7 separate regions of the Homo sapiens genome follow, and all the other regions are linked to region 3. The links come from fine-mapping of genetic effects on gene expression. A gene starts in region 3. Each other region holds a variant in brackets. All regions are shown on one strand. Distances are from middle to middle.

Evidence for each region. PIP is the estimated chance that this variant, and not a neighbour inherited with it, causes the effect.
Region 1: its variant is the best candidate, but not a certain one, in a credible set for the expression of NAV3 in unexposed skin (GTEx, PIP 0.62).
Region 2: its variant is the best candidate, but not a certain one, in a credible set for the expression of NAV3 in cerebellum (GTEx, PIP 0.71).
Region 4: its variant is the best candidate, but not a certain one, in a credible set for the expression of NAV3 in skeletal muscle (GTEx, PIP 0.55).
Region 5: its variant is the best candidate, but not a certain one, in a credible set for the expression of NAV3 in testis (GTEx, PIP 0.88).
Region 6: its variant is the best candidate, but not a certain one, in a credible set for the expression of NAV3 in esophagus muscle (GTEx, PIP 0.67).
Region 7: its variant is the best candidate, but not a certain one, in a credible set for the expression of NAV3 in whole blood (TOPMed, PIP 0.85).

The regions. Positions count from the first base shown.
Region 1 is chr12:78,076,494-78,080,933 of GRCh38, reverse strand. All of the region lies in intron 12 of NAV3 (neuron navigator 3), which reads right to left. Among named protein-coding and RNA genes, the nearest start is that of NAV3, 250 kb to the right of the region's middle. The variant G/A (reference allele first, on the strand shown) is at 2,250.
Region 2 is chr12:78,162,245-78,166,684 of GRCh38, reverse strand. The region is part of intron 23 of NAV3 (neuron navigator 3); the gene reads right to left. Among named protein-coding and RNA genes, the nearest start is that of LINC02424, 200 kb to the left of the region's middle. The variant C/T (reference allele first, on the strand shown) is at 2,206.
Region 3 is chr12:77,828,365-77,832,804 of GRCh38, reverse strand. NAV3 (neuron navigator 3) reads right to left here and starts at 1,911. Exons shown (of 40, transcript NM_001024383.2): 1 at 1,101-1,911. The coding sequence starts at 1,343.
Region 4 is chr12:77,445,532-77,449,971 of GRCh38, reverse strand. No RefSeq gene overlaps it. Among named protein-coding and RNA genes, the nearest start is that of LINC02464, 130 kb to the right of the region's middle. The variant C/T (reference allele first, on the strand shown) is at 2,450.
Region 5 is chr12:77,931,542-77,935,981 of GRCh38, reverse strand. All of the region lies in intron 1 of NAV3 (neuron navigator 3), which reads right to left. Among named protein-coding and RNA genes, the nearest start is that of NAV3, 100 kb to the right of the region's middle. The variant C/T (reference allele first, on the strand shown) is at 2,623.
Region 6 is chr12:77,852,541-77,856,980 of GRCh38, reverse strand. The region is part of intron 1 of NAV3 (neuron navigator 3); the gene reads right to left. Among named protein-coding and RNA genes, the nearest start is that of NAV3, 24 kb to the right of the region's middle. The variant G/A (reference allele first, on the strand shown) is at 2,274.
Region 7 is chr12:78,032,103-78,036,542 of GRCh38, reverse strand. The region is part of intron 9 of NAV3 (neuron navigator 3); the gene reads right to left. Among named protein-coding and RNA genes, the nearest start is that of NAV3, 200 kb to the right of the region's middle. The variant G/A (reference allele first, on the strand shown) is at 2,075.

The DNA of each region.
Region 1 (4,440 bases), 250 kb before region 3:
TTTTGAATTATCCTACTTGTTATTATCAAATGCATGTGCTCAGCTAAATAAAGTCATAAGACAAGCAAGTTTGAGGTAATTAGATGGTGCTGATTGTACCTGCAGTATGCAGTTCATTTTCATGATTAATTCTGCATGGAAGGCTACACATACTATTCTATTCCACAAAACAGAGCATCAAATAGGAGAAAAGAGTCCAGGGTACCTCGTGACTGCCAGTGTCAATTTGAACACTATTATCTCACCATGAGTAAATGGTCCAATATCTTAGAAAAACTCCAAAGCAGCAGCAGATTGAGAATTATGATCTATTTTAGACAGAAATTAAACTATAATGGGAAAAAGTAAAGTCTAAAAGTCATAATCAATACTGATACCCACTGTGTTAATGAGTTTCTGTCATTACAACAACAATGGAATCAAAAGGGTAGGAAAAGTATCTCTGGAAATTGTGGTGATTAAGTCTTTAATCCAAAGAGAACATTTATGCAGGTGAAAATTTATTTTAAAAGTATATTTCAAGATAGAAAACTTTTAAAAGTTAATTTAAGGCTCACTCTGTGTATCACATAGACTACTTAATATTACAAAAGGGTTTTTAATGATCTTTGGAAAACGAGAGAATGCTTGACCTAGTCTTTCTGTTCTCTTGCTAAGGGGACATGATACTTTCATTTTCCACTTTCTACTGGCCCTTGGTACTTTTATACTTTGTGTCTCAATCAGACCACATGAGTACCTACTATGCAAGAGATAAAACTTCTAAGTTAGAAACAGTGTAAACTATACCCTGTCCCCAAATTATTTTTGTCTAAAATGCCAGGTTTAAGAATGTCTAGATGGCTATAATTTAAGATTTTATTGTCAACAAAATGGGTGGGGAAGAGGGCAACAGGTTCATAACATATTAAAATATAGACAAAATACATTTTTGTGGTTAATATATTAACTCTCCATGCTTCAGTGGCCTCATTTACACAATGCAGGATACAATATCTTCGATTATGAACACAAGGCTTAACACATATCTGTCATATTATTATTTAAACACGTACAAGTGACCTTCACTTTCTTTACTGTCCTACGTAGGCAAGAGAGTAACCATTATTTATCATGCATAGAATCAGTAGAAACTCCACTTAGAGGGTAGGCCTAATCATTTGTACAGTGTTCTCTTTGGAGATGGTTCTATTCCAGATATAAAACCAGGGCACTGGGGTATCCAGCCATTCTCTAAATAAAAAAGCCTCCTGTTTATTGTCTTATTTGTAAAGAAGTGAGAGTTTTCAAAAATTAACTGATTTCTGATGTCTGCTAATAATTTTTTCTATGAAGAGAAGAAAAAGGATTGTGACTGACACTGTATAATATACTTATGGTGTGCTATCTTATGTAATCTTTATAATCGTCCTTTTAAAGTAGGTTTGGGATTGTGAAACAGATATCAAATACCAAATAAAAAATATCAAAAAATACAGCCTTTTTGCTGATAAAAATGTTATCAGTCATGAAAATAATGAACGCATCAATAGCAGGCTAATAAAACTTCAGAGATAAGAAATAATCATGCTTTGTTTTAAAGCAAATTTCTTTCAAAATTTATGATTCTATTTTTTTCCAAGGCATTTCCAGCTAGCTAAGCTATAAATCTGAGTCTTTATATCTAAAAATCTCACACTGTCTTTTCATTTAAAAATAAAAAAAAGACATCTTTAGAATTCTTGTGCTAGCCCATCCTTGCGCAGGATGTAGGACTCAATGGCACATCAGTTCTTCATGCTGTGACAGTTCTAGCTACAAAAGGTGTGACACTTTCTAACACCAAGGCATACTCACAGCTGGGGTTTTCAAATAACAGTTTTATTTTGGAGTCAATTCTGAGTGCTGCTAGGACATAGGAGGATGTTATTTGTGTATAAGCCTTTTGATCTATTTAAGGAATCACCAAGTCAAGTGGTTAAAAACCAGCAACATTATTTGTTAGAAATATGATCAAAATTAATATTTGTCTTTATAATTTGATTTTTCTAAATACTTCTCTCTTGCTAAAGTGGTTAAGTATTCAGATGATTTCACTATGCCACATTATCTTCTGGGTGTTTTGAAGGGAGGGGAAACCAAATCTCAGAGAGTCATCTTTCCATGGAGAATTGTCTCAATGCAGTTCTAGTTGTCTATTATTGTGCTGTGAGGTTATTGAGAGAGAAGCTATGGCTTTAAATTTAAAAGAGTGGAAAGAGGCCGGGCGC[G/A]GTGGCTCACGCCTATAATCCCAGCACTTTGGGAGGCCGAGGTGGGCGGATCACGAGGTCAGGAGATCGAGACCATCCCGGCTAAAACGGTGAAACCCCGTCTCTACTAAAAATACAAAAAATTAGCCGGGCGTAGTGGCGGGCGCCTGTAGTCCCAGCTACTTGGGAGGCTGAGGCAGGAGAATGGCGTGAACCCGGGAGGCGGAGCTTGCGGTGAGCCGAGATCCCGCCACTGCACTCCAGCCTGGGCGACAGAGCGAGACTCCGTCTCAAAAAAAAAAAAAAAAAAAAAAAAAAAAAAAAAAAAAAGAGTGGAAAGAGTGAAATGCAACTCTCATACTTGTTACTTGGGTTCATAGAAATTAGGTCTGATGTAGAGCAAAGAGAATGAGAATGTTATCGGTTGAATTGTGTACCTTCCAAAAATTTGGTTGTTGAAACCCTAACCCTAGAACCTCAGAATATGACCTTACTTGGAGATAGGGTCTTTACAGAGGTAATCAAGTTAAAGAGAGCTCATTGGAGTGGGACCTAATCTAACATGATGGATGTTCTTACTGAAAGGAGAAATTTGGACACAGACACACACAGGGAAGACAATGTGAAGACACAGAAGCTAACTACAAGACAAGGAGACAGGATCCCTCACTCGTGGCCCTCAAGAGAAAACAAGCCTACCAAAGCATGGATTTCTAATGTCTAGCCTCCAGAAGGGTGAGACAATATGTTTCTGTTTTTTGTTTTTGAGGCAGAGTTTTGCTCTTGTTGCCCAGGCTGGGAGTGCAAAGGCGTGATCTTGGCTCACTGCAACCTCCGCCTCCCAGGTTCAAGCGATTCTCCTGCCTCAGCCCTCCAGGTAGCTGGGATTACAGGCACCCACTGCCATGCCCAGATAATTTTTGTATTTTTAGTAGAGACGGGGTTTCACCATGTTGGTCAGGCTGGTCTCGAACTCCTGACCTCAGGTGATCTACCCGCCTCAGTCTCCCAAAGTGCTGGGATTATAGGCATGAGCCACTGTGCCTGGACAATATGTTTCTGTTGCTTAAGCCACCCAATCTGTAGTACTTTGTTATAAAGTCTTAGCAAACTAATACAGAGAATCAATGTTAAACTTAAGAGTCTAACAGTTAAGATTTGGATTTGTTTCACCACCATGGGAGTCAGCAAACTATGGCCATGGAAAAAACCCAAATTGTACACTGTTATTTAAGAATGTCTTTTACATTTCTAAATAGTTAGAAAAATTGGGGACAATTTGTTTTCTCTCATTGTGTAAACAGATACACAATATCTTGATTTTGCCTCTTGGCCCGTAAAGCCTAAAATATTTATTGTCTGGTCCTTTATGAACAAAAATTGTAAACTCTGGCCCAGATAAGAATCAAGCTGAGTTGAAATCCAACTTAATTTAGTTATTGAAATTTGGGTTAACTTTATTGAGCTTTTATATTTTTATTTGTACAACAGAGCTTTCTAAAAATTTTCATTATTTTACAGAATTAGTATCAAGGAGTAAAAACAAATGAAGAATATGAAAAAAACTTAAGAAGAAACTTAAGAAATATGGAAAGGTCCATACATATAATTGTATTTTTTCAGAAAATATTTATATAAATTACATATACAACAAATATTAGAAGTCTATCATTTCACTCAACACATTTTCTAAACTCAGAGATGAATTCTTTGATGTTTTAGACACAATCCAAAGATACTTTAAGCAGAATTTCTAAAGTAAATTACCATCAGATATCCTAGTATTATACTTTGCTATTTAAACATATTAATATCTTGGTCAAAATATTTTAAAATTACCACAAGCTAGAAAGCCTTGAATTTCTTAAGCAAGTAAAAGCAGGTAGCAATATTTTGGATTATATGGCTTCTATAGAATTTCATACTCAATAAATTTTCCTCCACAATGATTTCAAATGTATTTTTTCTTTTGAGATAATACCCTAGCTACATGCTTTTCATACCTGTGTTTTTTTTAAAAAGCTCTCAAAAGAAAGCATGTCATTCATTCATTCATTTACATAAACGTTTATTGAGTACTAATAGTGAATCAGGTCCAGTGCTAGATGTGAAGAATATAAAGTCAGAAAAGACATGAAATAAATACTTTCGAAATAATATGGGAAACATTAAGATGCATATGATGGCAAAATATACATCACATGTATATTTT
Region 2 (4,440 bases), 330 kb before region 3:
TTTAATATGAAACAGAAAAATGATCACTTTCTAATATTAATTATCTTTTAAAAACCAATAGCTATTAGCAGGTTAGTTGTTACTCAATGTGGCACAATATATGTAAAAGGAAGAATAACTAGTTAAGAAATATATATGCTATATAACTTGGGAGAATCCTATCTATGAAAAAAATTAGTTCAACCAAATTCATACTGTTATTTCTTTAAAACTTTGAGTATAAGCAAACACCTATAAAATATTCCATAGTCTTTGATTAAAAAGATAGCCAAATTCTACATTGATTGACATAATCTGTTCAAACTTGCACTAGTTATCTTTCCATATTTGCAAAATTCCTTCCTTCTCTCTCATTTCAGTTAATGAGATCTGCTCTCACCTTGTCACTCAAGCCACACCCATCTCTTTTCTCTGAGCTTTCCATATAATTTTTCCCTTTATTTAAACATCCTTCCTCACTGTTAAAAGCCATGGTAAAATGTCTCCACACTTGTGAAACCTGTTTTCCTGTCAGAAAAAAAGTGAAAATGTGCTTTGAGACTATTTAATGTAGTTTGTTTAGTTGTTGATGAATATATTTTTTCGCTTGATTTATGATCTCCATAAATATTGGGATGACTTTGTTGAAATATTCTGGTCTGTGTTAAACAGATGTTTCTCCCCTTGAAAGAATAACATAAAACTTTAACTTTATTGCATACGTATTTTTTTTTTTTGCAGGAGGGTGTCTGATCACCTAGTGAGTGGGGTACCATATAAAAAACATCAAAAACTTTATTATTTATTATAACCAGGAAGTCTTATTTTGGCTAAATCAGTGGAATCACCTCCTTTGGATGAGAACAAAGTCAGGTTTTCCTTTCTCTCTTTCCCAATAGTATTATAGAGATAAACATAAAGAATTTTAAAATAAAAACTTAACTGATACATAGACATTTTTCAATAGTTTATTTCTAGTTTTCATTTTTCTTCTTCATAATTATGGTTAGTTGTTCACATTTATTTTTTAAGATACATTTTCTCAGGTTTCTATAATGCATAGAAATTGTAATGTGGCCTTCAGATGCAACTAATAATTTTTATTTTATTTTTGTCCATAGTGGGGAGTTTGGATGAGGTACATGATTAGAAATGAATTCCCAAGATAGCTAACTATAAAATCATTAGAAATTTTTAAAATATTTTCATACAATTTCTTTATGTTGAAGGGAAACATAGAAGATACTCAAGTTTTGAGAATCCTCATTAATCATTTAGAAAAAAAACTGAAAAATGTATATGCCATCAAGATATGGATTTAAAGTCTACTCTTCCAATTCAGTCATTTCCAGTTTCTTATTCTCATTAAATACTAAAGAGAAGATTGAGGCTGGGATAATTCTGCAAAGGATTTTAGGAATAAGATAATCAGATCATATTTTGTTACTTCACACTTTTCAAAAATGATAGATATTTTAAAACCTGAGAACCAAACTAAGATTTCATTTTCCTCCAGTGAGCTATTCAAGATAATGATGCCCCCAACACCAGCTGAGCTTGTAAAGTTCTAGTTTTCCACGAAAGTTTCTCATGTTAAAGAAGCTAAATTGAGTCAATGTCTCTTTTCACAGTTTTATGCATGTATCTGAGGCTAAACAATTCGTTCAGGTCAGGCTTGAAATGCTTCCAAATAAAATGATCAAATTTTGTGTCAGAATATTCGCCTTTCCTGGTGGCCTTTCCAACCCAGTTTCTTAACTATACCTGATCTCTTTCCAAATTTCTCACTAACAAAGACTTTGTTGAGAATCCCAAAGCTTGGGACAATCTCATCAAGTGTCATCAACTAACTTGACCTTCTAGGCAAGCCTGTTTAAATTTTCCACCACATCTGCTTTTTAGGTCCTCACATTGGCACTAAGTTAATCTCACACTTCCCAGCTCTAGTTTCCTTAAACAGGTCCTCCTTTCCCCACTCCACCATGCATCTGAAGTCTTGCTAGTTGTTCTACTGAAATAACCTGGCCATCCCTATTGCATCTAGTTTCAAATAAATTACATTGACCAAATACCAGTAGTGTAAATAATTTGAAAATTTTAGATTCACATTATTCTATGCCCCAAAGATTAATGGATGCATCATCTGACTCCAGCAATATATTTTTTAAAAACACTTCTAGATGGCAAATATCATAACGTAAATTAGGGAGAGTTAATGTAAAAATC[C/T]TATTCAACTAAATTTTTAGTTGCAGCATTATCTATTTTCAAAGATTTGGTTTCAAATTCCCTTATTTTGAAGGTTTCAATTCCTGTTTTGTAGTCACCCAAAAAAATGTTTCAGAGAGGTAACAAATGAGCAAACTACTAGGCTTTATGGTTAGCATAGGAGTCAATATCTGAGCTTCATCACTCATACAAGGGGCTACTTCTCTGCCCTGCTCTGACCTTCTAACAAGAAAAACCCCTCATACCTTAACATATGTTCTAATTGCCTTGGCATGACAGCTACAGGGAACTAATTTGAAAGTCTTTTAAATTTTAAATTCTGAAATATTTAGCTGTGAATATAGCTTTAGTAAATTTGAACACAAGGATTTAGAAGTAGTTCTGTAAAAATGTTACTTATAAAAAATATAGTTTGCTGGATTCCTAGAAGTTGAGCCTTTCTCAACTGGCCTTCTGTGAGAAAATTAAGCTGCACAATGATTTGAGTAGCAATTTCCTTGATTCTGACAAGAGTGGTACATAGCTAGTACCATTCTAGATGGTGAGAAAAGAAGTTATTTCAGCACATATAATGGATGCCTCAGGGCATCAGGTTTAATTTTTTTCATATAATCCTGGTGAAGAAGTGCTGGTGAAGAGAAAACGATCTGAAATCAGGATAAAATTCTTGGTCAAACTACGCCAATATCATAGTCTACTGAGTCCTAGGTTAGGTATAGGGTAATGCCTAGAGATAATTTCACTCCCCAGCAAGCACATTAACAATTCTCTTAATTTTTACCTACTTACAGACTTAGTATTATATAACATGTCTTCTTTTAGCAGCTATTGGGAATACTGCTTAACTTTCAGAAAATGCTGCCAGATTGATCACTATTTTTTATTTTTTATTTTTGTAATTTTTATTTTTTTGAGATGCAGTCTCTCTCTGTCACCCAGGCTGGAGTGCAGTGGCATGATCTCAGCTCAGTGCAACCTTCACCTCCAGGGTTCAAGCAATTCTCCTGCCTCTGCAGATGTTTCCTTTGAGAATGCACATGACATTGTACTGAGTCTAATAGCATGATAATTTTCTGCCTTCTAAGTTATTCATACATGTCTTTTCTTTCTTACCAGGCTATAAGTATATAAAACCAGTGTTCTGCCACACAAATTTGGCAAGAGATTCCGTGTTATTTGGCATCTGGAAATAGGAAAAGTGTTAGGAGTGAATCCCTCTCTATTCAAGGGAGTTATTTTGGTCTATAAATCAAATGACAATTTTGATGTAGTTTCAGGCTATTAATGCCATGTGATTGCTGAAAATCACACTGTGAAGCCCAAAGACTAGAATCTGAGTCTTAATTTAGTTTATCCATTTTTAAAGTATGTAATCAAGAACATGTAACCACCTTGGCCTTTGTTACTTTGTGTTTTAGCTTCCAAACCAGCTTCTCAGTATCCTCATTCTCAGCTTTACTTTTTTCAGTAGTGCTTATCATCACCTGAAATCCTATATGTTTTAATTATATATTATATATATAAATTACATATTTATAAATATGTAATTTATATATATATTATATAATATATATATTTATATATATATTATATATATTATATATATATATTTTTTTTTGAGACAGAGTCTTGCTCTGTTGCCCAGGCTGGAGTGCAGTGGCATGACCTCGGCTTACTGCAACCTCCACCTCCCAGGTTCAAGTGATTCTCCTGCCTCAACCTCCTGAATAGCTGGGACTACAGGTGCCCACCACCAGGCCTGGCTAATTTTTGTTTCTAGTAGAGATGGGGTTTCACTATGTTGGCCAGGCTGGTCTTGAACTCCTGATCTCAGGGAGTCCACCTGCCTTGGCCTTTCAAAGTGCTAGGATTACACGTGTGAGTCACCACACCTGGCCTGTTTTAATTATATTTTTATTATCATCTGTGACCTCCTAAAATATAAACTCCATGATAAAGAGATACATATATATGAGATATATATGAGAAATATAAACTCCATGAGGAATATTACATACATGTATAATATGCTTTTAGAGTTCTAGTAGATAGGTATGTCTATAGATATAGACCTATATCTATCATTCTATATCTATATTGTCTGTACTGTTTTGTCATTAGAAGAGCACAAATTCAATATAAACTTGATGAATGACTAAATAGACAAATGAAACTTATAACTTGGGGAAGGGAGTTTAAGAATCTCTGCTCTATACTTCACAAGCCTTTTCTCAG
Region 3 (4,440 bases):
CAGAGGCTGGAAAGGGTAGTGGCGAGGGGTAGGGGGAGTGTGGATCGTTAATGAGTACAAAAATACATTTAGATAGAATGAATAAGATCTAGTATTTGATAGCACTATAGGATGATTACTGTCAACAATAACTTATTCTATATTTTTAAATAACTAAAAGAATATATAATGTTTGCAACACAAAGACATGATAAATGCTTAAGGCAACAGATACTCCATTTACCCTGATATGATTATTACACATTGTATGCCTGTATCAGAATCTCTCATGAACCACATAAATATATACACCAATATGTACCCATAAATATATACACCTAATATGTACCAATAAAAGTAAAAATGCACAAAACAAAAGTGACGCTTATCAAGGTACAAATGAATCCGCATGAAGTTCAGCAGCTTCAGTGCCATTCTAGCATGCGTGACTGGAGAAAACGGTTGTAGTATGCTTTAGAAACCAAGGGCTATGAGCAACTACTCACAAAATATCATAAATTAAATGACTGAAAAAGATGTCAGTAATAAGTAAAAGAGTAGCGTTTCAGTTTACAAGGGAAAGTCCATATAAATGTGCAGTATCAAGGAAAATAGTATGTCATTTTCCTTCATACTGCAATGAATTAAGCAGCCTATGATACAAATTTTCAAGCAGAAATTCTTTGAAATGCAAATGACATTTAGAGAAAAGTGATGGTGTCTATATGAATTATTACAAATAAATGTCTTTTTGAAAGTACCTATTTTCATACATTGCAGTATGGATGACAATAGGTTCTCTTTTTCTCACATTTGTGACTGATTATGATTATTAGTAATAGAGCAATATCTAGAACTAACTAGGCATTCATCAATAAGTAGTATTAAATGATTACAATAGATGCATATTCAGAAAATTTTGATCATGACTTTTACAACTCTAAACTAAGAATACAGTGTTTACATAAGCTAAATATTCAGCTTTTCAGCCATTATAACTACTTACATCCTTACACTGGTATTCCTCTACTACTCCCCATTTCATAACATGTTTTATAGTGCACTTAAAGAGAAATGTGCATTTTAGCTACACAAGTCTGCAGGTAACTTCAGCAACTAACCTTGCTGTCTTCTTTCTCCTTGGCTTTTCCTTGGAGGGGTTTCTTCTCTCCAAATTCACAGGTTGATTTTAACGCAAGCTGACAAGAAAGCATGGAGCTCTCTGTTTCAGTAAGTTCCAAAGGTCTTGAAGAACAGTGCTGTGACCCAGTAGTGCCAAGATTTGGTATCGGAAGAGCAGTATGCACAGGCTTTGACCCAACAGCTGGCTGCCTCAGTTTTGAGGCAACCCCAAGAACAGGCATGGCTTCTATAAAATTATCTTCTTGCTGCCAAAGAAAATGCTTCTAACCTCAGTCTGGTAGACTCCAACTTTAGTATTTCCAGAACAAATACTTTAAACAAAACTAGCAGTCATCCTGATTTTTAAAAAGCTAATAATATAATTTTCAGGAAGAGGCAAAACTTCCCTGCATCTTTAGTTAAGTATCTTTTCTTTCTTGCTGGCTGGGATTCATATTCATTCTCATTCTCTCTCTCTCTCTCTTTCTCTCTCTCTCTCTCTCTCTCTGTCTCTCTCTCTCTCTCTCTCTCTCTGTCTCTCTCTCTCTCTCTGTTCAGTGACTCAGTATCTAAGTAATACTAAATACTCCTTTGGGGAGTAAACTCTTCTTCAAGGTAACTGCTACAAAGCTCCTTCTTAGGATTAAAGAGCTCTTAGTTTTGCTTATTTTTTTTTCTCACTAAAGCAGTCTGAGTCTGAACTTTGAGATTGAAAAAGAGGAAAAAATCAAAAGGAAAAGCCCTTCAGTCCAACTGTCAGAGCAGCCAAAAGACCACAACAGTGGAAGGACAGGGGTTCTTCCTGATTTCAGAAATAGCCAGCCTGCATTCTCTTTTTAAAGAAAATTGTATTTCCCCCAGCTCAGAAAAAATAAAAAGAATGGACATGTTAATGGCCAAAACAAACAGCTGTTGGAAGAACTTTTAGCCCGGAAACAATCTCAGCAATAAAGTTGTTTGTCTGATTTCCAGCTATTTTTCACTACTGACAGCCATGAGCCACGATGTTCATTCTGTTGCATCCCATGAAATCAGGCTAAAATCATGCAATAGTGCAACTAGCTAAAGCAGTTAAATCATTCATCGGACCATAGCTGCCTAGGTTATGAAAATAGAGTAAACACAGGAAGCAGGGCACTAAATATGTAGTAATCATTGTTCCCAAATTTAATAAGTCATGATTATAAAAACATTCAAAGCTAACACTTATGTGGAATGTATTACAAAGCAGTTATGGAGCTAAGCATTTTATGCATTATCACATTTAATCATTGGAATGACTCAAAGTATAGGCATATTTATTTTCTTCACTTTATAGAAAGAACAGCTATGACTTGGAGACACTGAAAAAATTGACTAAAATGATGAAGCTAGAAAGGGGGAAAGAATGTATGATTTTAGTTTGTAAACCTGTCTTTTAAAATGGTTGAAAATAACACTGTTATTCAAGCTTATGACGTCCAACTTAAAATCCCAAGCTTCTAAAAACTGTCCAAACAGATACTCAGTGAGAATGAATGATGATGCTTCCATCCATAGAATTATTTTAATATAATCATAGCATGTTCTATTTCTGGTTAAAGCATGTCAGGAACTTTAAATAAACAAGGGGTAAACTTTTAAGAAAACATCTAATGTACCATGCATTATTGTTCTGAAACTGATTGCACTCAGAAAATGGATACAGAGAGCAATTATATACACCAAATATAAAAATTAGTAATAATGCAACCAAAGGTCTTAGAAAAATGAGTGGTGGACACTTAGTATAGACACAATGAATCATGGAAATTATTAAATCGTAACCATTTTTTATAGAAAATGTCTTTCTTTAGTGAAGAAATGGTCATCTTTGGCCTACTGTTTCCAGGTCTTTAAATCACTACGTACTTTTATCTAAGAAGCAGTAATTTATAGATGAAAGAGCCAATAACTAAAAGTATATGTTCTGCTGATGCAGCATAGAAGACAGGAAATGTAAGTTAGAAGTCTTGCAGGCTTTAAAAATAGTAACCCAAGTGGGCTTTACACAGCGGGGTAATACAAAACAAATACAACACTAGTGGTATCAAAGAAATGAAATAATCTCTCTGAGGAAGTAAGTTATTTTGCAATTTGCAAACCATTCAACACATTATAACTTTCAGAAACTATAAGGTAATACAGAGTTGGAGAGGTTCATGTTCGTAAAATGAGGTTTAGTTCATAATAAGACATATGCAACTTGTAATCCTCACAATGCAAAACAAAACAGCACCTAAATAATAGAACTTGTGGGAAAAATTGATTCTAGGAAGTTCACTCAAAACATATGCAACTTTGGGAGTATATTGCTAGCAAAAATAATATTGGCACCTCAGAAAATAATTTGGACCACTCAAGGAAGTGACTCAGAATTACATAAAAAAATAATTGGGTATAAATGCTGGCAACACTTTAACCAGAATTGGTGGAAGAAATCCGGTTGGAAGGCAAACTCCAAGCCAGTAGGCTTGCCATTGAAATGGGTACAGGGTCAGGGCAACTGCAAATATTTAAGAGCTGCACAAGGCCAGGGGCATGCCCCTTTGAAGAGGAAGCCCCAGATGCAGGCATTCATTTTTGTTTTTGTTTTTAGTTTTCTTAAAACTGAGCCAAAAGGGCTCCTGCTGACTATACAACATTCAAACTGAGGGCTTCTTTGCCCACCCAAGGTTATAATTCTACGCTGACTATTCTGCTTCCCTTTGCCTAGAATAAATTGTATATAAAGCTACACAACTTCTGCATTATACTAGTACAAAATTCCTGTTTGCCAATTACAAATGAGCTCATTGGTATTTTGGAAACATGCATTGGAGGAGAATGTATCGTAATTCCTGGAACAATTAGATTGAAAAAAAAGGATTCACATTCAATAAGATGTCTTTTCACTTTGAAATACCTTTTGCATATTAGGCAATATCTTTCACTCTGACTGAAATATAAGATGGTATTAGTAGCCACTGTCAACTAATTTTTTGCAGTAATATCTACCACCAAAAGCAACAAAACCAAACTAACTTACTATAAAAAATGTGCTTTGTGCCAGGAGTTGTCATCTCAATTTATCTTAAAAGAACCACACCGTTTTGAGACCTAGGAGACAAAGGCACCGAGAAAGTAAAAAATTAGCTTACGGTCACTGATACCTTGTAGATGAAGTTCAAAATGAGGTTTTACAAACTGAGTTCAACAAACCAGATGTGATGGTGACCTGAGTGCTTACTAAAATATAGATGATTGTATTCATCTCGAACCCACTGTGTTAGTCCATTTGTGCTACTATAACAGAATATCTAAAACTGGGTAATTTATAAA
Region 4 (4,440 bases), 380 kb after region 3:
CTTGTTGCTTTTAGAATGTTTTCATAATCAAACTCCCAAATATCAAGGATAATTAAATGTCTTGAGGTAGTTTTATTTGGGTTAAATCTGCTTGGTGTTCTATGACTTCCTTATACTTGAATACTGATATCTTATTCTAGGTTTGAGAGGTTCTCTGTTACTATCACTTTAAATAAACTTTCTACCCCTGCTCTCTCACTACCTCCCCTTTAAGGCCAATGATTCTTAGATTTGCCTTTTTGAAGCTGTTTTCTAGATCTTTCAGGCATGCTTCACTCTTTTTCATTTTTTTTATTTTGTCACCTCTGACTGTCTTTTCAAAAAGCCTGTTTTCAAGCTACTAATTCTTTCTTCTGCTGGGTCAACTCTTCTATTATGAGATTCTGGTGCATTCTTCAGCACGTCAATTGCATTTTTCAACTCCAGAATTTATGCCTGATTATTTTTTAGTCATTTCAATCTCTTTGTTAAATTTACCTGATAGGATTCTGAATTCCTTCTCTGTATTACCTTGAATTTTATTGGTTTCCTTCCTCAAAACAGATATTTTGAATTCTCTGTCTAAAAGATCACATATCTCTGTCTCTCCAGGACTGGTCACTGGTGCCTTATTTAGTTCAACTGGTGAGGTCATGTTTTCCTGGGTGGCTTTCATGCTTGAGGATATTTGTTAGTGTCTGGGCATTGAAGAGTTAGGTATTTATTATAGTCTTTGCAGTTTGGTTTTATTTGTACCTGTCCTTCTTAGGAAGGCTTTCCAAGTATTCAAAGGGACTTGGGTATTTGATGTAAGTTTTTGATCACTGCCGCACATTTGCATGAGCTGTCACCCCAAGTCCAGTAACACTGTGGCTCTTGCAGACTCATAGAAGTAGTGCCTTGGTGGACTTGGATAAAATCTGGAAAAATTATCTGAATTACCAGACAGACTCTTACTCTCTTCCCTTAGTTTCTCCCAAACAAATAGAGTTTCACCCTCTCTGTGCTGAGCTGCCTGGAGCTGGGGCAGGGTGACACAGCACCCCTGTGGTCACCACCACTGGAACTGTACTGGGTCATACCTGAAGTCAGCACAGCACTGGGTCTCATTCAGGCCCGTGGTAACCACTGCCTGACTACCATCTTTGTTCACTCAGGGCCGTAGGGCTCTACAATCAGCAAGTGGTGAAGCCAGTCTGGCTTGCCTTCTTCCTTTCAGGGCAACAATTTCATCTGGAAGCCCAGGCCTAGAGTCGGAAACTTTAGGAATCTACCTAGTGCTGTATTCTACTGCAGCTAAGCTCACACCCAAGTCACAAGACAAAGTACTTCCCACTCTTCTCTCTCTTTTCCACAAGCAGAGAAGTGTCTTCCCATGGCCACCACCACCCCAGGCCCACAGTGAGCACTTCCTGGCTATCACTGATGTTCATTCAATGCCCAAGAGCTCCTCAGTCAGCTTGTGATGAATGTTGTCAGGCCTGGAACACTCCCTTCAGGGCAGTGGGCTCCCCTCTGGCCCAGGGCAGGTCCAGAAATGCCATCCAAGAGCCCACTTAATGGTCTACCCCACTGTGGCCAAGCTGGTACTTAAGCTGCAAGACAAAGTCCCCTTTACTCTTCCCTCTCCTTTTTTCCAAGTGGAAGGATTCCCTCCCCATAGCTACCACAGCTAGAAATATGCTTGGTCACACTTGAAGCTAACACATCTCAGAGTCTCACTCAAGGCTCATGATGAATGCAGCCTGGATACCACTGCTGATTATTCAGGGACCAAGGGCTCTTTAGTCAGCAGGTGATGAATCCTGCTAGGACTGGGTCCTTCTCTTCAAGGCAGCAGGTTACCTTCTAGCCCAGGGTATGTCTAGAGATGTTTAGGAGCTAGGGCTTGGAATAGGGGCCCAAGGACTCTGCCTGATACCCTATATACTGTGGCTAAGCAGGTACACAAGTTGCAAGCCAAAGTTCTCTTTACTTTTCCCTCTCTTCTCTTCAAACAGAAGAAAGGATTCCCTCCTGAAGCTGTGAGCTGTGCTGCCTGAGGTTGGGGAAAAGGTGATGCAAGCCACCCTGGCTGGTGCCTCATTAGGTCACATGGCCCCCAAATCCACAGGTTCCAAGCCCAGCATGGCTCTAGGACTTGCCCAGGAATTGCAGTCTTTGTGGCCTAGACTGCTTTTCAAGTTTATTTTGGACCCCAGAGCCCTTTAGCCCACAGTGGTAGGGCTTGCTGGAACTCAGGTTCCAACCGCTGAGATAAATGTTGTCCCGCTAGCTAGGGCTAGTATAAACGCTCTTCCATGGTCTCTGGCTGAGTTCTGCTCAGTGCTGCTTTCCATTGTTACAGCACTAAGTTCCAATGCAAAGTCCTGCAATTGCTTTGTTCTCCCTCCCTCAAGTGCAGTTTCTCTGCTCCATGCAGCCACTGCTGGAGGATGAGGGAGGGGTGGTGTCAACAATTCAATACTGT[C/T]TTTTCTACCCTCTTCAGTGTCGCTTTCAGTAATACGAAGTTAAAACCAGGTACTCTGATCCCTCACCTGATTCTTGGTTCTCATGCTTTTTTGTGTAGACAGTTGTTAAGTCTGGTGTTCCTGCAGGAAAGATGATCAGTGGTGGCTTCTATCTGGTCATCTTGTTCTGCCTCCCCTCCTCCAATACACACATATCATATATACTTTTGATGATATGCCAGAAAACACTTGATAAGACTCAAAGGTAAATGAGCCAATCACTACAAATAGTTTCACAGAGTCTTAAGCAATTACAAGGGTAAGGCATAGAGTAGAGTCTTAGTTCTATTTTAACTCAGTCTAATGTGGCTACTTCTGAGTATTTAGAAAGGAAATGTCCTACTTAAGCTGTTACTGTCCTAGTTGTTTTATATGTTCTTATAATTTGGAGTATGCAAGTTATTAAATTGCCTTGAGCTTAGCAGAGTTGTAAAGCATCTGATAATCCCTGAGGTTTAAAAGCAATAAGGAGGACACTCAGGCATTTTTTTCCCCTTAGCTTAGGGAATCCAAAACCTTGTTCATCAAATGAATTAAGAATATAAAGAATAAAGAATGACTAAAAATAATGTCAAAGACGTAGCGGATGTCAAACCAACACAGTCAACTGCCTTACTGTAAGAATTAAGTACCTCTACTTGGTGGAATATAGATATATTCTGACCTGTGGAGCAGTAGTCTCTTGAGAAATAACTGCTAAAAGCTTATCGTTTAGCTAACAAATAAGATGTACTATGTATGTTCTTACTAGAAAAAGCTTTAGGTTAACTAGAATCTCAAAGTCAAATATGAAGCTTCTGAAGCTTATTAATGCCTAAAATGGGATCTATTTAAACGTACAATTAAATCAAAGGAGAGTTTAAAGAAAATCAACAGAGTTCATAATAAAATATATCTGCAGTTCTTATGGTTTCCAAGACAAAAACAGCTTCAGCAATTCCATGGTGTGAGTTTGGAAGCAGGTCTTTAGCTTTTGTCATCTTTCCCGCTGTTCTTCAGCTGTCAGATTGAATCTACCCATAGGCAGGATATATCCATCCCAGTCAATTTGTGAAACACAGGTAATAAAAAAAACATTATTAATAAAACTATATTAAGTGCAGTGAACATATTATTATAAGTGAATCTTAGATGACATTTAGTAATTATTGATGAAATCTATTATAATAGAAACAATTCCTCATACTATTTTCTGGGCACATAAGACTAGTTATTTAGTATTCTTGTACCTGTTTCTATATGGGGTCATGTGACTGAATGTTGGCTAATAGAACATGGGGAGCTGGGAATTACATGGGAATTATATTACTCCTATACTTGACCCCCAGGATACAGTTACGAATTCCAAGGAGACTCTAGGACATGGATCCACAAGATAGAATTCTAGATTCCTGAGTCACCACTGGAAGGAAAAACATCCAGGTGAGTCTTCTGACTTTCTATTACACGTAGCTATTAATGTTCCAACAGGTTTTCACAATTCTCAATCTCTAACCAAAATGAGGAGAGAATGTGCTATTAGGACACTAAAGATAAAATTTAACATTCATTGAGCACTAAATATATGCCAGGCACTTCCTAAGTGCTCCTAAACATTATCTCATACATTTCTCATAAGACCTTGAGCTTTATAATCTCTATGAGGAAGCTGAAGCTAGGAGAAATGCAATAAAGTTCCAAGGTTATACAGCAAGAAGAGGCAGAGCTTGATTGAAACTTGAAAGTTTCTCTACAGAGCTCACATGACAACAGTGCATGGGATTCCTATTCAGTACATCCCAGGAACTATGCTAGCCAATTTGGATCCAGAGAATAAATAGAGTGTCCGACTTTTAGCAACTTACAGCCAAGTGGGAAAATGATTGATATTTCAAGGACTCAATGAACTACGCTAATGAAAAACTAAAACAATACAAGTGGAATAAAAAGAATTTCCAGGAAATCTGGTACT
Region 5 (4,440 bases), 100 kb before region 3:
ATTCCCAGTATTGGAGGAGGGGCCTGGTGGGAGGTGACTGAATCATGGGGGCAGACTTCTTCCCTTGCTGTTCTGATAGAGTTCTCATGAGATCTGGTTTTTCTGAAAGTGCGTAGCACATCCCCCTTGGCTCTCTCTCTTCCTCTGGCTCCCACCACGTAAGATGATCTTGCTTCTCCTTCACCTTCCACCATGACTGTAAGTTTCCTGAGGCCTCCCCAGCCATGCTACCTTTGGAGCCTGCAGAACTGTGAGTCTATTAAACCTCTTTTCCTTACAAGTTACCCAGTCTCAGGGATGTCTTTATAGCAGTGTGAAAACAGACTAATACCTCAACCAATGGAATTATTGTGAGGATTTAATGAATTTCTACTTTGGAATATGGACTTTCACTATGTTAAATATTGTTATTAGTAGCTCACTGCTTTAATATGAAATACATTTCCATTAACCATGAGAAATATTGTAAACCATTATTATTGTTAAACTCTTAAATCATATATATTCATCCAAATATAGTTTACCTAACTAATTAAGGAAAATTGCAGGAAGTTGTAATGACCTTGTAGCTTCATCATTTGCCTCTATGATATTTCTCTTACAGTGCTCATTATTCACTATAAATATGAGGATGAAATAGAAGGCAACATATATGATACCATATTTCTTTTGAGAAGTGAACCTGCTATGAAGAAACAACATCAGAAAAAGATCTACTCTGATTTTCCTTGAAGTCCTAAACATTTGTGATTTTTTTTTACTACTGACAGTATTACATACTATCTTTGTCTGTCACAGCAAGCTGCTCCTACATTTTTAAAAATTATTTATTTTAGCATTTGGTTAGTATTTTATAAGTAACCTACCACTCAGTTATATAAAAATGATTATAACTATTTTTGTTATTCCATACACTACATAGAGGTATATGTGTTTCAATGGGATAAAGTAACTTATTTTTAAGGAATCCTAAATAATCGAAGAAGTAGGGAGAAGTGATAGGGGAAAGACTGCCTCTTCATTGAAGTTAAAAGTCTGTTTGAATAAAAACACACTAATCTGTAACCTGATTAGAAGATATTATGAATATAATCAGAGGATTTAAAAATATTAGCTGAGCTAATTTTAACCCTGTACTTATTTAAAACATTATTGTTTTCCTTCAACATTCAAGCAGTAGCATTACATTTCTATAAGCACTGCTCCCTGGTATGTTCAAATTACTGGCTTTGTAAAGTTAAATGGGTTCTTCTAAGACATAACAGGAATTGTGTTGAAGACCAAGGGTTTCTATGATAATAACTGGACTTCTACATCTTAAAAAGCAGCAAAAGACTAAGCATATAAAGTGCAACCAGAAATCATACCTTAGGGAAAGGTGATCAGTGAAGTAAGTGTTTTTCCCACAAAAAGAAAAACTAGTATAGGGAAGAGAATTGGAAGGAAAAGGAGCCCTAGAACAGATTTAAGAGGTTACCTCTCTGGACTGAGTTTCAAAGTAGCATTTGGACCTGAGAATGGAATCACAAAGGACAACATTGACCACAACAGTATAGGAAAGCATACTTTTTTTTTATAATTTCCCAAGAGCCATATGGAATTTTCTGGAAGAAAGAAGTGATCCTAGAGAGCACTTGAAATCAGGACAGGAAGGATGTATAGAGCTGGCACAGAAAAGCAAAAAGGGCACAGAAGATGTGAGGATAGGTTAAAATAAGTCAAGTTATGTATGACAGGAATCCTACCTTCGGGCACTCATCAGACAGCAGCCTTGGTGGGTAGCAATGGCAATGAACAAGCTGTGTCACCCCTGGTGCCATGATAATAAGGAACCACAATCAACAACCCTCCCCAGCCCATCACTGCAGAAAGAAAAGGAAGAATCTGGAACTGAATGAGCCTGGCCCTCAAACACTGAGTTTTAAACTGAAAGTGATTATGTTACTTTGAACTGAGATAAATACATTTTCTCCTACTATACAGAGAAAGAGGCTTAAAAGGTGAAGTTATATATTTTTTCAAAGATATAATTTTGTACACCACAGTTTTAAGACTCAAAAATTCAAAAATGGTAGGCAACATTGGACAAAGAAGGTTGCAAAATCACAGTGTGGGATTAAGACACAATACATACTATTTTTAGATGTTTTGAAAAGTTGATCACAGACTGGATCTGCAGTTGTTGTTACAGAACTGATATGACCAAAAGATCTGTGAATGAGTCCAATCTCATGACTCTTGTAGGCCTTCTAGAAATCTCAATAGCTCATGTGGTATAATTATGAAACGAATCCATTAAAAGTTTTGGGTAACATCATATTGTCACAATATATGTAATACATTCACCATCTAGCTAGTTCACCTCAGTCTGTACAGATAGTTCACCTCAATATTCACATTAAAATGAAAGCTCACACTGTATGAAGTTTTTCAAAAATCTCAACTTTGGAGTTTGATTTAAAAGTGAATATTAATGAGTTGACTACCCCATAAGATCGGTGGATGGTCTATGAAGGCAAGTAAATTATAAAGTAAACATAAATTGAAGTCTGATAATTTCCTTTTACTTTTTTTCTGTCATTCTCTTTCAATCTCTGACCTAGTGCTGTTAATTTTATCTCC[C/T]TAACATCTCTTCACCCTTCCACTCCTCCATTGCTACTATCATTGCCCTGGGTCGCTTCTCATCATCTCTCACCCAATCACTCTAACAGTCATATAAACACTTTCTGAGTGCAGGCAGGCTAAGCATTATACTATTCTATACACTACAGATAGTGATTGCTTTAAAATGCAAATCTGATCAAGTAATTTAACGTGTTAGTAAAAATCACAAAATAGCTCCCACTTAACTTCAAAAAAAATGTCCCTTATGAAGTCAATTTATTCCATTTTTAAGAGAAAATTAGTTTAAATAAAAATAGCAAAAAGAGTAAAACATAACTATGAAGGTTACAGAAGAATGATGATTGAGAAATGACACATAAAAGGATGAGATTTGACAATCAGAAGGAAGGGGAAAGCATATTCCATGCAGAATATGCATAAATAATTACATCTACAGAGGAACAGAGCTATGAAATAGCCTCATGATTTCAGAGAATTTTGTATAGTTCTATTTGGCCAGAACATGGGGAAGGGGCACATGGAAACACTAAAGGAAGAGGCCAGGAATCAGGTAAGGGTTGGGCAAAAAGCAATAATATCTGAAGCTAAGAAGGCTTTATTAAGATTTTTAGGTGAAAGTTTATTTTCATGTAGGGAACATGAAAATGACAGCCATGCTCCTGTTACTAAACTTGAACTTGAGTGCAGCTATGGAGTTTAGAGTCAAGTTTAGAGTCAAGAAAGTAAAGACAGATTACTTACAAGACTTCTGTATTCTAGATGATAAAATAGTTTTCTGCCCTGTATTTACTAAGAAATTGCCCACAGGACAGCAAGAACAAAAAATCTTAACTCAAATTCTATCTTCCATGAACACAATATATGAGTGTGGAAGGCAGATGAAAGAATGATACACATGTAGCAGAGTAGTAAAGGAAGATGGACCCACAGAAGCCTGCAGAGGGAGACAGAGTAATGCAAACAGATTTTCCCACAGACCCCCAGAATGGCTCAGAAAGTATGAGCATCAGATCAAATGGAAGGTAGGATGAACCAAATTCAAGAGTTATATTGTTGCCGGCCTATCCATTCTCCCATCAAAAGCCAGGACATACTTTAGGGAAAATCCGGACTTAGGGTTATCAGGAAGACAAAAGGTAAAGGCATGGAAATGAAAACAAAAGGATTAAGTAAAATTATATATACTTATGTTGAGACCCCAGCAACTGATTTTTGCTTCCCTGGCACCCTCTCCTTCAGGAATATAGGATTTCATATCCTCCACCCTCACTCCAGTCAGATTTAAAAAATCTGTCTTTGACAACAATGATCATCCCTAAGATCAACAGATACTGACACTCATGGTACCCAGTGAATCAATGAGCTGGCCATCATTATAGGATGGCCTATAATGAATCACAAAAGACATTAACAACTATGTGCATCACACACACACACACACACAAACACACACGCACAAATAGCTTCCAAGTAGATTATTATTATTATTTGAGATGGAGTCTTGCTCTGTCACCCAGGCTGGCGTGCAGTGGCGCGATCTCGGCTCACTGCAAGCTCCTCCTCCCGGGTTCACGCCATTCTCCGGCCTCAGCCTCCCGAGTAGCTGGGACTACAGACACCCGCCACCACACCCGGCTAATTTTTTGTATTTTTTAGTAGAGATAGGGTTTCATCGTGTTAGCCAGGATGGTCTCGATCTCCTGACCTTGTGATCCGCCTGCCTGGGCCTCCCAAAGTGCTGGGATTACAGGAGTGAGCCACCGCACCTGGCCGCTTCCAAGTAGATTTTTATTGTCTCATGCTTGATACAGAGAA
Region 6 (4,440 bases), 24 kb before region 3:
TAGTTTTAGATATTTGATACTGCTAAATGAAATCTAAAAAATTAGCATTTTATCATTCCTAGCCTTCCGTTGTCCAAAGTCTAAAAATTTAGATCCACTCAAGATCTGGAAAGCTTATTTTCAGAAAGTATAACTGCTTATTTTGAATTGAAACCATTCAAATTTTAAAGTGCATAATTCTAAATGTCTGGGTAAAAATGTTTTTAAAAAGCCATTTCATAATACTCAAACATTGTTTAGAAATGTGGATAATTAACTGTATTATTCCTCCTTTCAAGTTAACATTTTAATGTTATGCATTCACAACCATTGTAAAATAATTTAATATTAAGAATGTTATTTTATTATTTTACTTTTTAATTACATCATTTCAAAACTCTGTGGCATTGTTTCCACTGGAAAATTTTCTAAAATATAATATTTTAAAATTATTTCTGGAGGTAAGATTTTAAATTCAAAGATTGAGTTAAACCAAATATAGTCTTATTCAAATAAATACATATTTCTCATGTATGTTTTTACACCTTAGAACATAGGAAACAAATCTTGGGTGGACCTCCTGTGTAAGAAAACACTCCTTGGGGCCCAACAGCCAATGTGCACAATTTGTGAGCAAGTTATCAGTATTTCCTCCTAATTTTCACCTTGTCATTATCATTTCATAAAGCATTATTTATTCTAAGACTTAGATAGCTACATGTCACAAGAACAAATAATAATAATACTCTACTTCATAGACAGCCAAGAGCTGCAAGTCCTACTTCTCCTGAAACAGAACAAACAGCAGGAAATGAAAGCTCTTATATATATCCATTGGTAAAAAGAATTACCAGTTATATAGTGCTCATCTTCTCTCCACAACATATGTACAATAAAGAACGTTTCTTAAAAATTATATTGAAGTGAAGATAATAATACTCTACAGCCTATATAAACAGTAAATTCTAATAACAGACTTACATGGAAATAAACATTATAGCATTTATTATGAAAATGCAGTACGAATCTGTATCAGTTAGCACTTGCTATATAAAATACACCACCAAAAATTTAAGGAATTAAAACAACAATGACTTTTTAGCTCATGATACTGTAGGGTGACAATTTGGGCTAAGGTCAGCTAGGAGTTCCTTCTTCTGAGTTTGGCTGGGCTCACTCACGTATCTGCAATGTGCTGGCAGTCAACGACTCACTCATACATCTGGCATTAGCTAGCTGTCGGCTAGGGCCCTGCATCGATTGTCACTCAATATCCAGTGGACTAGCTCATGCTTATTTATATAGAGTGCCCACGAGCAGCAAGTGGGAAAGCTCTGGGCCTCTTTAGTCTGGGCTCAGAATTCTCACAGTGTCTCTTCAACTGCATTCTATTGCTCAAAGTAAATTCCAAGGCCAGTCCAGATTCAAGATGGATGTGAATACACTTCTGTACCCCACCTTGATGGGAGGAGCTGCAAAGTATTATAGAATTCTTATAATATATCACAATGTCATTGAACAGAGACCTTTTGAGAAAATAGAAAAATATTGTGATACCCTTTAGGGATATCACAGATTCACTAAGAATAGATTCTGTCAAACTGACCTTCTTTCATTTTGTAACAATGTTAAGTGGGAAGCCAAAAAAATAACAAAAGCTTAGAATTTTGATTTCAGACAATATTTGATGATTATTTTACTATTTTTGGCAAAAATATATTGAAATTTAGGCTATACCGAACAGTTGGATAACTGTATAAATATTTAGACAATTATAATTTTTAAATGTTGATTAAAAGATCATTCTCCACCTGAATTCTTTAGGACACATGCAAAAGGATGTTAGTCAGCATATATTTTTTATTTTTATTTTTGGAGATGGAGTCTCGCTCTGTCACCCAGGCTGGAGGGCAGTGGCGCGATCTCAGCTCACTGCAAGCTCCGCCTCCTGGGTTCAGGCCATTCTCCTGCCTCAGCCTCCCGAGTAGCTGGGACTACAGGCGCCCGCCACCACGCCCAGCTAATTTTTTGTATTTTTAGTAGAGACGGGGTTTCATCGTGTTAGCCAGGATGGTCTCAATCTCCTGACCTCGTGATCTGCCTGCCTCCACCCACCTCGGCCTCCCAAAGTGCTGGGATTACAGGCGTGAGCCACTGCACCCGGCCAGATGTTAGTCAGCATTTCTAAGTAATAAATGCTTACACTTAAAATATTTAGACGGTATATGATCTCATTTGTAGATTTAGAAAAGATAGTAGAAAGAGGCGGCATGATTGATAAGGAAATGAACTTG[G/A]AATTAGCATAAATGATTTGAAATTATATGTTGTTTTCTAGGATAAGTGCCACAAATATTCTGGCACATTTATTTCCAATAATTTTAACACACACACACAAACACACACACACACACACATACACACATACACACAATTGGCTTATCATGATTACATAGCTTTATTTCCTACCTTCTTCAGTTACTTTTACATCAAAAAGAAAACATAGTCCTATATCATAAAATGTTCTCGGAAAACAAGGTTTCTAATGATCAGCAAGTTTTGTACATTCGTAAATTAACTGAAAAAGTTGGAGGACACTTGTTTGATAATAATCATAAAAGTACGATTTAGGGGATTTATGCAGATTTATTCAAATTCAAGTTTAGTATGTGAACATGGTATGAGGTACTGCCAAAAATATGATAGAGCTGCTCTAAGCTGAATCAACAGAAACAGGCTGCCTTCCAGTTCTAGAAACTAATGGAGCCATATTGCTGATGAAACATCATGTAGGCTATTGCTTTCTATTAATTTTTAATCTTAATGTTAAATATATCAGTAACTAATTAGGCTATGTCTGAAAACGAATAACCATGATGATAAGGCATCTGAAATTCATATTGTGTGTGGAATAGTTGAAAGCCTTTACTCAAAGAAGAGGACAAAAAGGTGAGGCTTTTTCATTTTCCTACCAACTGGTATGACTATGAGCTCTAAAAATGTACACCTGCTAACAGACTGCTTCCCAAAGTCAATTCTGAGTTCCTCAATTATCCCTGAAACCTTTCCAAGACTTAGAAGTCATAGGATTCATATAATATGTGTTGAATAGATAAGTGAACAAAAGACTATATTAGTAAACTAGAACCAATAAGTGGAACTAACAGAGAGAGAATTTTCACCTCAGTATAAGAAAAATTTATACCTTATGAAATATTAACTCCTGATTTTTAGAAGTCTGCCAAACTGACTATAAAAGGTATGCATACGTTAAGAGTTTTACTGGATTCAGAAATCATCTGACACAAAATGTGGCTTTTTTTTAAATAGAGATAAGATTATCTCTATTCTGTACAATGACCAATTCTGCCTGTTTTATTGTGTATGTTGAAATGTTGCTATCAGAAGTATTGCACATATTCAATTTTCATCTCAAATAGTGCTTTTTGCATAGAATAGTTTTGAAATTTTTGAACAGTAGAGTTTCTTAAACAAGATAAAAATTGATACATTGGATTACACTAAAATTAAGAATTTATGTTTCCCAAAAGACATTATTAAGGGAGGGAAAACACAACCCATGGAATGGGAAAAGATATTCACAATATGCATATTTGACAAAGGACTCATGTGCAGAAAATGTTTAAAAAATTTCTATCTACCATTAAGGAAAGAGGCTCACTACTTATTAGAAAAGTAAGCAGAAAACCTGAATGAACACAACGGAAGATATCCAAATGGCCAGTTAAATACAGAAAAGATAATCAATTCCATCAGTCATAAGTGTATGGAAGCTTAAAACTACAACAAAATCACACTACATAGAAAATGCTAAGGACCTGTGGCCTCATAACAATGGTGATACCAGAGGGCAGAGATGTGGAGCAACTGAAGATGCATTCAGGTTAGTAAGAAAGCAATCTGGTACAACCACTTTAGAAATGGTGGCAGTAATCGTACTCATGAAAGCTGAGTATATGTCTTGCCTATTACCTAGAAGTTTCACCCCTAGGGATCTACCCAACAGACATCGCTTCTTATGTTCGCAAAAAGACATGTGCAGGAATGTTCACAGTGTCATTATTCATAAATCCCCAAGCTATAAACTATCCAAATGCCCACATTAAAAGCAGAATAAAAAATAAATTGTGGGAGAATTCACGTACTGGAATAATATAAATCTACGAGAATAAGGAATCTAAATTGTAATTGTAAATGTCAGACAGCAATTGTAAATGTCTGTTTCCTATTCTCTACTAGCTGGAAAAATGTGTTCATTTTCTACAAATTCATGAAACATATTTATGGTATGTGTACTTTATTGGTATGTGTCTATTATACATCAATAACAATTTTAAAATATTTTACTAGGCCGTTTTCACAAACTTATAATGCATATGTTTTGTTATTCTTCATAAGTATAACATTATTTATTTATTTATTTATTTATTTATTTATTTATTT
Region 7 (4,440 bases), 200 kb before region 3:
ATGTCTCAGCAGGAGGATGGGTCCACATTTCCCTCTGTTGCTTCTGTGTCCCGAAACGCCAGGAGGTGAAGCACGAGCTGAGGTCTCTTGCTTTTTGCTTTTTTTTTTCTTTCCCCTGCCTTTCACCAGCCCTTAACTGACCTAGGTCTGTAACCCTTTACTCTAACGAGCTGACACAGTGCAGCAAGTACAGCCTGCTCATAGGAGCCCAGGAAGAGCAGGAATTAAGCACTGACGCCCAGCCCTGCACAAGCCTCTTACATTTTAGTATTCCACCTGCATTCTCAGATCTATGGCTCTTCCTTGCTGCTGCAGTGGATGCTGCTGGCTGCCATGGCAGCAAACATCCTGCCAAATTAAAACAGAGGCACGGGAACGGCTGTCCAGCGTAGAATGCCACAGGTTTCTGAGCCAAGCCTGTACGAGATCTTCCACTATTAACCTTATGCACATTTAAATGACTCTCAGCCACCCAATCTCAAACACGGACACACACTCACACCCTCACATACACAACACACACTCCCCGATGCCGAGAATGACAGACTAATTCTCTGTAGCTGCAGGCAGCTGAAGCAGGCAGATCTCCCTTCTGAATGTTGGGATTTGTGCTGTAAAAGCACAAATCAAATTCAAGAGTGTAAAGGACCTAAAAAATGAAGCATGACACTCTCCACCCGCTAGGAGATAATGCTTTAAAGGGAAAGACTTCCCTAATCTTTTAAAGAACAAAGTCAAAGCCTTCTTATTTTGAATCCTAAAATCCTAATGTGATGATAAAGATTTCTTACAGCCTTTTTGTAAAAACAAAAAGGAAATAGAAAGAAAAAAATAACTCAAAAGGGTTTTCCCTTGATATTTTGACTCAAAGCTTAAAATTGAAAGTTTATGGTCAAGTGTGTGGAACATAATAATGTTACAGATAACACAAAATGCACATTGTGTCTTTTGATATTGCATTTTTCCAGGTCTATTTCATAAGCCTATCACAGCATAATCAGCTCTTATTTCTTAATGTTTTCATAAAAACAGAAAACCTAAAGATAATTTTCTTGTATTTACCTTGTACTGGTACGTACACTATACCACCACAAAATTCTGATTTTAGGACAACTTTAAAAAACAAATATATAGTATAGCAGAAATCATGGGTACCATTGACAGTTAAGAAGACTATCGACCTTTCAGTATTTAACTTCTGAAGATTTTCTGCTCACAAACAGAAAAATAGGGATTTCTCCTTTATCAAATGAGGGAAAATGGAGAAATATGCAGAGATATTATCTTCATCATTTTCAGAGCTAATGTGGCAAAATTAATTGTGATTTTCTACCTCCTATTGCCAATCTCAATAGAGGAAATACCCAATCTCATAACTATATATATTAGCATTATAATATGCATTGCCTATAACTTTACACATAATAACCACTTACTTTGTAAAGTTAATTATTCCTTATGCCCCACCTTTCAAGGTAGATCAGACTTAGACCCATTTTATAGATATGAAAAGGAAATTAGCTGGAAAGAACAGCAATTATTTGTGACAAAATTCTGCAATAAAGAAATCTGTGAATTATTGATACTCATTCTCAATTCTATACTTTTTAAATACTACTCGTTTATATAAAATGTGCTAAATAAAATTACAGTACAAATATCAGATAATTGAAACTGACAGTTATGCTCCTAAAAACACAATTTTGTAAAGTATTTTTTGGAAGACCAAAATGACACTCCCCTTAGAATTCCTAAGTAGAAAATCTTTTTTCTTTCATTTTGAGTTATTGTGACACAGTGAATTTCCAAGTCCTGAGACCATAGTGAAATTTGTTCAAATTATGAAATTTCAATGTATTTAACATTTGTTACACTAGTATATATGCTAATATACCCTAAAGCCTTACAGATTCACAAAAAATGCAATTCTAATGCTTTATATATCAAATGAGTTGACCTTATTCATCTGTAAATAAAAGCAATATTTATGCCCTTTCCTTATTCAAGACTGCTTATACATATACCAATCAGTTTAAACCTGTGGTTCTCAAGCTTCATATGTTCAGAACCACTC[G/A]GAGGGCTTATCAAAACACAGTTCGCTGTGCCCCAGCCACATAACTGCTCATTCAGTTGGACTCGGAGGGTCCTGGGACTTTGTATTTCTAACATATTTCCAGATACTGCTGGCTCTGAAAACCCCCTTTGAGAACTACTATGCTGAGATTAGTGGTTTTCAACTGGGGATGGTTTTTCCCCCAAGGGACATTTGGCAATATCTGGAAACATTTTTCGTTATCACAACTGTGGGTGTGGTGGTGACATCTAAGGGGAAGTGGCCAGTGATGTTGCTAAACATCCTACAATGATAAACCACCCCCATGCAAAAAAGAATTCTGCATTTCACAACGTCCACAGTGCCGAAGTTGGGAAATCCTGAATTAGATTGTTATATTGCATTTACAAATGGTTTAGAAACTTCAGTGGCATTCAATACAAAGATGTATTTTGCTGACATTAATGTCCACTCTGTTTGTTACAGCTCTCTCTCAGGTATTCTTTATTCTAACAACCATGCTACAAGAGCAATCCTAGTCTGGGACATGTTGATTTTATGACCAAAGGAAAAGAGAGGTGAGAGATCCAAGCAATGGCTCTTAAGTTTCTGCTCAGGAACATCCCATGTCATTTTTCCACTTGTATTTCATTTGTCAGATTAAATCACATGGTTCTTCCTGATTCAATGAGACAGGAAATTTAATCCTTCTGGAGGGGTGAACCCTGGAAAGGATGGGCTCAGTCCAATGGAGCCAGCAAGGAGGGGATTGTAGAGAAGGCTTATCAAAAGGGGGTTTCTGTCTCTTTGTTCAAAGATATTGTTATTAACTTGTGGTTACAGTAGGTTTGTCCCAGAACTACATCAGTCCACATTTACTCTGAGCGACAGTGGGGAACCCACTTATTCCTTCTCTGGAGAGCGCCATCCTGCTTGCTTTGGGGGTACATTCATATATGAATGTTTTTATATTTGTTTGTATTCACACATATAGATGTATGTTATACAAGGAAGAGGAGGAAGGTGCAGTGCAAAGGAGACAAATACACCCAGTCAGTAGGAAAAATGTGAATCATTCTAATTACGCCAAGACCTAAAATAAGTTATAGCTATTATAATGTGCTGGAAAGGAATGCTTTTCAGCTCTTTAGTAAACATAATTATAATGTGGCTATTTAAGTAAAAGACCTAAACTGATTTGAATTATCTGAGCTTGATCTTCTTGATCTTTATAAACATTCAAAAAAAAAAGGGCAATTTCAGTGATCATTTACAGAGATTGTAAATGTCAGATATTTCCCACTTTTAATACAAAGTCTGGTAGTCAGTAAAAGCACATGTAACCATTCGCTTATCCTTCTGGTTAACCTAAATTCTTCTATTTCTAAAATGGTTTCCTGAATTCAACCAATAATTTTAATATTACTTTTTTACAAATGACATGCCAGCTTTATTGATATTGAGCCAGTCCAGCACCTATGAACATTTTTCAGTTGAATATAAATTCCAGATAAAGGTTAAGAAGTGAATTAAACAAATGTGTTACATGTTGGTGGATAGTCTTATGCAAAAAAAAAGGGCAAGTGTGAACCTATAGAAGAAAAATTGAAAAACTTCCTTGAGTACCAGTGGGATGAAAATTTGGGCTCGCTTTACATTTGGCAGAATCACTTGGAAGATGATGAAAGGGATGGCCTCTGAGGACAAATTCTTTCTGTCAATGAATGTGAGAATAAAACTCAAGCCAAAGCAGTAAAATCTGTACCATTAATTCAGCCAGCACTGTAATATTGAGGTCATGATATGAATCTTAGAGGAAAGGCAGGAAGCAATAAGCTACTTCTTCAATGGCAGAAATTATATAATACATTTCACCTGACTATAATAATTATTGGAGCTACCATCATCAGATTGGGTAAATACAACTAGGTTTCTTCACAAAGAACATAATAAGCAAAAGCAAATTTAAGTGACGTACTTAAAAATTTTGGAGAGGTGCACTGAAGACTTATGAAGAATATTCAAATTGAAAAAGTCATTTATCCAGTATTCTACTTTATTGAGTGTCATGCATTTCTGATATTTATCTTCAAACCATAATTTATTACCTTTTTAAACTTTCATTACCATTTAATGGCAAAGACAATGTTTTTATAATGTCAAGTGAGTTACTGCATTGGTGAAAATTTAAACAGCTAAGCTCTCCAACTAACTTAGCAAATCCCTCTAACACATCTGCATTGCAATGTGAACCACTCAAGTTTGCTCTTTAATAGTATGGCAAATCTTTACATGTCATACATCCTGTGGGTCATGCAATAGGGATGATTTTCACATTTGTGTAAGCACAAAAAGACTTTTTTCTGGGTTACATAACTCAAAAGTAG